Homo sapiens: one gene and its partner. The protein of the gene in region 2 interacts with the protein of the main gene of each other region in a pairwise test. Each region holds a gene or a part of one and is shown on either strand. Other genes may lie near its edges.

What was found. The genes of interacting proteins can lie anywhere in the genome.
Region 1: the proteins of PLSCR1 (region 2) and SPG7 interact in a two-hybrid assay, tested with the Homo sapiens proteins (one large-scale study listed by BioGRID and IntAct).

The regions. Positions count from the first base shown.
Region 1 is NC_000016.10:89,514,811-89,518,617, reverse strand, and holds part of SPG7 (mitochondrial inner membrane m-AAA protease component paraplegin isoform 1 precursor), read right to left. Parts: intron 1-3,807. UniProt on the Homo sapiens protein: Catalytic component of the m-AAA protease, a protease that plays a key role in proteostasis of inner mitochondrial membrane proteins, and which is essential for axonal and neuron development.
Region 2 is NC_000003.12:146,517,572-146,520,842, forward strand, and holds part of PLSCR1 (phospholipid scramblase 1), read right to left. Parts: intron 1-3,271. UniProt on the Homo sapiens protein: Catalyzes calcium-induced ATP-independent rapid bidirectional and non-specific movement of phospholipids (lipid scrambling or lipid flip-flop) between the inner and outer leaflet of the plasma membrane resulting in collapse of the phospholipid asymmetry which leads to phosphatidylserine externalization on the cell surface.

The DNA.
Region 1 (3,807 bases), on a different chromosome or scaffold from region 2:
GGGGCCTTTTTTCCACTCCGTGTAATTCCTTCTGGGTTCACCCGCGTTATCAGTGAGCGGAGTCTTTTTTCCACTCTGTGTAATTCCTTCTGGGTTCACCCGCCTTACCAGTGAGCAGGGTCTTTTTTCACTCCGTGTAATTCCTTCCAGGTTCACCCGCGTTATCAGTGAGCGGAGCCTTTTTTCACTCCGTATAATTCCTTCCAGGTTCATTCGTGTTATCAGTGAGTGGTGCCTTTTTTCACTCCGTATAATTCCTTCCAGGTTCACCAGTGTTATCAGTGAGTGGTATTCCAAGCAAATACTTTTCGGGCAACCACTACTTACAATCATTCTGCACGGCTGGCAAAGCTGTTTCTAAGCCACATTCAGTATCGTTCTTTCATTTAAGGAGGTGGCAAAAGAATCTTCATCTGAACAGACGCCATGCAGTTCAGCATCAGACCAGGGAGAAGGCCTGCCTGAGGGCCGGGACTGTGTTGTGCCTGTCTGATCAAGTCAGCAGTCCTGAAAATCCACACAAACCAACTCCCGCCGAAACCACAGCAGAGGGCCCAGGGGAAACCCAGAATAGGTTCTCACAAGAAAGATTATTTGGCTCAGTAAACAATTATCCTCTAACGCAAATTTAACAGACATTATTTTCTCCAAGCAAACTATAGTTCAACCCAAAACAGAATAAACATAAAACAATCACTTGGCCGGGCGTGGTGGCTCACGCCTATAATCCCAGCACTTTGGGAGGCCGAGGTGGGCAGACCACAACGTCAGGAGATCGAGATCATCCTAGCTCACATGGTGAAACTCCGTCTCTACTAAAAACACAAAAAATTAGCCGGGCATGGTTGCGGGCACCTTTAGTCCCAGTTACTCGGGAGGCTGAGGCAGGAGAACTGCTTGAACCCACGAGGTGGAGTTTGCAATGAGCCGAGATCGTGGCATTGCACTCCAACTTCGGCAACAAGAGCGAAGCTCCATCTCAAAAAAAAAAAAAAAAAAAAGACGACGACAATTACTCAGATGCAGGAGAGACACGCATGTCAGCTACACGCAGCCTCATCCATAAGCAGATGCAGGGCCCAGGAGAGCAAAGGGCATGGTGACTGCCTGCCCTTCCTCACGCCAGGGCACCTGCCAATGCAGCAACGACTAGGATTTCACTGGACAAGCACCTACCACATGCCAGGAGTGATAACCAGGAAGCTGCCATGGCTTTGCCTTGCCATGGCAACGGAGGCTGCCATGCCATTCCTTCCAGGAACCATGACAACGGAGGCTGCCATGCCATTCCTTCCAGGAACCATGACAACGGAGGCTGCCATGCCATTCCCTCCAGGAACCATGACAACGGAGGCTGCCATGCCATTCCTTCCAGGAATCAGAGTTATTAGTGGGGCACACGTCCCTGGTTAACCGTAACACAACACACAAGGCTGAATGCAGAATCCGCACAGGCCACACAATTCTTCCCTCTTCTATGACAGGTGACCCTTCAGCAACACAGGAGTGAGCTATGTATGATCACGGACACGTGGATTTTCTTCCACCCCTGCTACCCAAGACAACAAGACCAGCCCCTCGTCCTCCTCCTCAGCCCACTCAAGGTGAAGGCCATGAGGATGAAGCTCTTTATGGTGATCCGCTTCCACTGCATAAATAGGAAATATATTTTCTCTTACGACTTTTTTCTTTTTTCTTTTTTTTTGAGACAAGAGTCTCGCCGTCGCTTTTTTCTTTCTTAATTTTTTTTTTTGAGACAGAGTCTTGCTGTGTCGCCCAGGCTGGAGTGCAGTGGCGCGATCTCGGCTCACTGCAAGCTTCGCCTCTTGGGTTCACGCCATTCTCCTGCCTCAGCCTCCCGACTAGCTGGGGTTACAGGTGCCCACCACCACGCCTAATTTTTTTTTTTTTTTGTATTTTTAGTAGAGACAGGGTTTCACCGTGTTAGCTAAAATGGTCTCGATCTCCTGACCTTGTGATCTGCTCGCCTTGGCCTCCCAAAGTGCTGGGATGACAGGCATGAGCCACCACGCCCGGCCTTTTCTTTCTTAATTTTTTATGTTTGAGACAGAAAGGTCTCACTCTATTATCCAGGCTGAAGTGCAATGGCACAATCTCAGCTCCCTGCAACCTCTGCCTACCAGGTTCAAACGATGCTCACGCCTCAGACTCCGGAGTAGCTGGGATTACAAGCACGTACACCACACCTGGCTAATTTTTTTTTTTTTTGGTATTTTTAGTAGACAAGGGGTTTCACCATGTTAGCCAGGCTGGTCTCGAACTCCTGGCCCCAAGTGATCTAACTTTCTTCTTTTATTAAAAAAACGAACGGCCGGGCGTGGTGGCTCACACCTGTAATCCCAGCACTTTCGGAGACCAAGGCGAGTGGATCACCTGAGGTGAGAAGTTTGAGACTAGCCTGACCAACGTGGCCAAACCAGGTCTCTACCAAAACTACAAAAATTAGCTGGGCTTGGTGTTGCATGCCTGTGATCCCAGCTATTCGTGAGGTTGAGGCAGGAGAATCACTGGAACCCAGGAGGCAGAGGTTCCAGTGATCTGAAATTACGCCATTGCACTCTAGCCTGGGAAACAAGAGTGAAACTCCAGGCTGGGCACGGTGGCTCACACCTGTAATCCCAGCACTTTGGAAGGCCAAGATGGGCAGATCGCCTGACATCGGGAGTTTGAGACCATCCTTGCCAACATGGTGAAACCCTGTCTCTGCTAAAAATACAAAAAATTAGCTGGGCGTGGTGGCGCACGCCTGTAGTCCCAGCTACTCGAGAGGCTGAGGCAGGAGAATCGCCTGAACCCAGGAAGCAGAGGTTGCAGTGAGCCGAGATCGTGCCATTGCACTCTAGCCTGGCGACAGAGCGAGACCCCATCTCAAAAAAAAAAATAATAATAATAATAGTAATAATAATAATAGAAATGAGGGTCTTAAACTCCTGGGCTCAAGTGATCATCCCACCTTGGCCTCCCAAAGTGCTCAGATTACAGGTGTGAGCCACCGCACCTACCCAGCAAATTTTTTTTTATAAAAAGGTCAGCCGGGCGTGGTGGCTCACACCTGTAATCCCAGCACTTTGGGAGGCCGAAGTGGGGAGATCACGAGGTCAGGAGTTCAAGACCAGTCTGGCCAACATGGCAAAACCCTGTATCTACTGAAAATACAAAAATTAGCTGGGCATGGTGGTGCATGCCTGTAATCCCAGCTACTCAGGAGGCTGAGGCAGGAGAATCGCTTGAACTCAGGAGGCAGGGGTTGCACTGAGCCGACATCGCACCACTGGACTCCAGTCTGGGCAACAGAGCGAGACTCCGTTTCAAAAATAAATAAATAAATACAAAATAAAAGTTAAAAAAAAAAAAGGTCCAGGGCTGGGTGCGGTGGCCCACTCCTGTAATCCCAGCACTTTGGGAGGCTGAGGCACGCAGATCACGAGGTCAGGAGATTGAGACCATCCTGGCTAACACGGTGAAACCGAGTCTCTACTAAAAATACAAAAAATGAGCCGGGTATGGTGGCGGGCACCTGTAGTCCCAGCTACTCGGGAGGCTAAGGCAGGAGAATGGCGTGAACCTGGGAGACGGAGCTTGCAGTGAGCTGAGATCACACCACTGCACTCCAGCCCAGGCGACAGAGCGAGACTCCGTCTCAAAAAAAAAAAAAAAAAAAGGTCAAGGCCAGGCACGGTGGTTCACACCTGTAATCTCAGCACTTTGGGAGGCCAAGGTGGGTGAATCACCTGAGGTCAGGAGTTTGAGACCAGCCTGGCCAACAAGACAAAACCTCATCTCTAC
Region 2 (3,271 bases):
ACTGAAAGATTAAATATGATGAAAAGGCTTATTACTACCCACTGTGAGTTGCCAAACATGAAATGCTAAGCACCTAGAAAAGATTAGCAGTTTGGAGTAAAGGCAAATACCAATAAGTAACTTGATGAAATGCCCCACGCCAAGGGTTGAGGTTGAGAGTGGATAACTAGTGGGGTGTGAATAAAAGATGAAGAGTGTATGAACAAATGAGCTCCGAAGTAGAAGTTTCCTAATTTTACAATTCTGCCTGAGGAAAGCCCAGGGCCATCATATAGGGTTGAATGGACTTTGCTCAGACTAAGGCAACTCCTCTAGGAGGGCAGGTGGGGACTGAATGTAGCTGAAATTCACAAAACTATGTACACATATAGTTGTATTAACAGAGGAGTGTCCTTTTCAGCTAAATAAATGTGGGGAATCTAAAAATACTTGACTCATTTTATTTGAGTACAAGTGGATAGTTTGTAAAATACTAGAAATAAACATCTAATATGAAGCTGATAGCATAATACTGTTCATCAAATATTCATTTCATTCCCTCTCCTTCTGTAGGGCCAGTATACTTCCTGTTCCTTCATAATTAGGCTTGGCCATGTTACTTGTTTGAACAACGGGTGTTAGCAGATATGACATGAGTAGTGTCCTTAAACTTGGCTAAGTGCTTTGGCCTGGCTTATGATCTTCAGTGACAAGCCACTAGAAAAGCATGACTCAGGTAGCTGCTGCTGCTACAGCCATAGAACAAATCTACCTGGAGCAGATTGAGGTTAACATGCGCCTAAGTCAGTGCTTAAATACATCCACTGAAACACAGTTGACCTACACACCCATAAGCATGAGTATAAACACTTATTGCAAGCTGCTGAGTTTTAGGGATTATGTGTAATGAAATACTACTGTGGTGAAATAAACTAATACAAATCCTTTCTTGTACATGTTAGTATTTTTCTGCTAATAGCTGTCATTGAAGCATTTGAAGCTAGTAATGAAAACTCTTATGTTTTATTTTTTAATTCTGAAATTTAAAAAAATGAAAAATGCAGCTGACAACTTACTAGCCACCGTAAACTCAACACTATACAGATAAAGATATTAACATTTGCCCTTTTTGATTACTACAGCAAGAAATTTAACAAAGTAGAGAATACATTTTTTATGGCAAGGATAAGAAATGCAAATAATGATCTTCAACCAATAAATTAGCAGGACTAGATAATTTTTAGCTAAATTGTAGACATTTTGGAATAGAAAATCACTATAATAAAATGTCAACATTTGGAAATAATAAATTGGTATTGTATAATGTTAAACTTTCAAATCCATGAGTGCAATACTAATTGGTAAAAGCATTCTAAAAAGAAAACCATAGATTCATCTCACAATGCAAATATAAATGCAAAATACTGAAATATAATGACAGCATATAGGATCTAGGTATGTAGCAAAGAAATATAAAAAGTGTATCATGAGTATATTAATAGTTGCTGGTAAGCTATTTTATTTACTTACTAATGATTTATTTATTTACTGTTATTACACCCAATTTTCATGTAAAAAAACTAAAGCAAAGAGAAGTGAAAGAATTTGTTAAAGTCACATAGATAAGTGTTGTGAAGATGGGTTTCAAACCTGGGCATCTGGCTCCAGTGTCTATACTCTTGACCATTAGGATTGTCTGCTTTTTAAAAACATATTTATTGAATACTAATGAAAATCTAGTTGAGAGGGCAGGAAAAAAAATCTGTGGGCTATAGTTGACCATATAAAATTTATCACTACTCAGGATCAGTTTCTATATTTTGAGATTCCTGAAACACAACAGTGGCAGGAATTCAGATTTCAAGCTCATAGACAGAGCTGACTTGGTATGTCAGTTTCATGTGGCCATATTTTTTCCCCCTACCAAGAGTCCTTGAAGGAGACAGACTCTCTTATCACCTATATTGGATAAAAGGTCTACTAGGCTCTCTCTTACTCACCATTAAGATAACCTTCTTAGAGATTCAATTACTGTCTGTTTGCTGAAAACTCTCCATTCTTTTCCTATACATAACTAAAATCCAACATGACCTTAATTCAAGTCATTAACTTCCCATATATATTTTATATAATCAACTACAGCTCATTGATTATATTTTGCTGATCCCTGACCTAGATGTGTATTAGTATTTGATACCTTACTTTTTAAAAAGCAGACTATCATAATGGTCAAGAGGACACAAATCAAGTGTTTTTCCTCCAAGATTCTTAACTTGGCCAATGTAATATCAGAATAATAACACATCAAGTTTATCTCCAAAATTTTTTTCATCCTCAATTGATATCAAATCCATGAATTAGTTCCACATAGTACACCTATGAAATGCCTCTTGAGTTATTCTCTGTTTTAGAATGACTCCTGCCCCTGCTGTGGAACAGGCTTTTATCTCTTTTATTACTTCAAGTTTCCATGCCCAGTGACACCCTGGTGGATTTCATGTTCCTTAGTGGTCCCTCATACTGATAATTTCTGCTTTGAGGTGTCAAAGTTTCCATTGTCAACTCTATGGAAAATTCTTCAAGTGACTATTTCTCAATTCTTTCCATGAGAGTACCTTGATATCATCATTCTAGATAAATAGAAGAAAAGTTAATTTATTACATGGAATGGATGCTTTAAGGTATCCATCAAGAAAGACTGCCAGATGAAACATAAATTTTTTAGTATCAAATACAAGGATTACACAATGTTTTTCCAGTGTTTTCATTTATTTACTAAAAATAAAATATATGCCAGCCAAACTTCTGTTAATATTGTTCCTTGAATGAGAAATTACTTTTCACTTCTCTGGATGTAGGACAGAGATTCCATCCCTTACATGAAGAACTGCTATTATGCATACCCTTACATAAAATTTTTATACATGCATATTATGCACACATATACATACACACATTATATAATCCCCTTATAAGAGCCTTTTTAAAGTTTCTATATCACATCCTCCTTAGAACTGCAAATCTCTGTCATTAGATTATGAAGTCAATGGGGGAAAGGATTCATCTTTATATAGCTAAAGTCTGACGGAGGAATAAAATACCATGTGATTAAAGAAGGCAGGCAGATCACATAAATGAATGACACTGGATATTGAAAAACCTCAGTAAGGGGTGGAGACAGTGGTAGAGTTCCCATGTCATTATTACAAGGGGCAGCCCCACACATCTTTAGTAGATTTTTACCCTTTTGTTGGAAAGGTGGGCCCAGTTAACCCAATTTTCTGATTTTCCA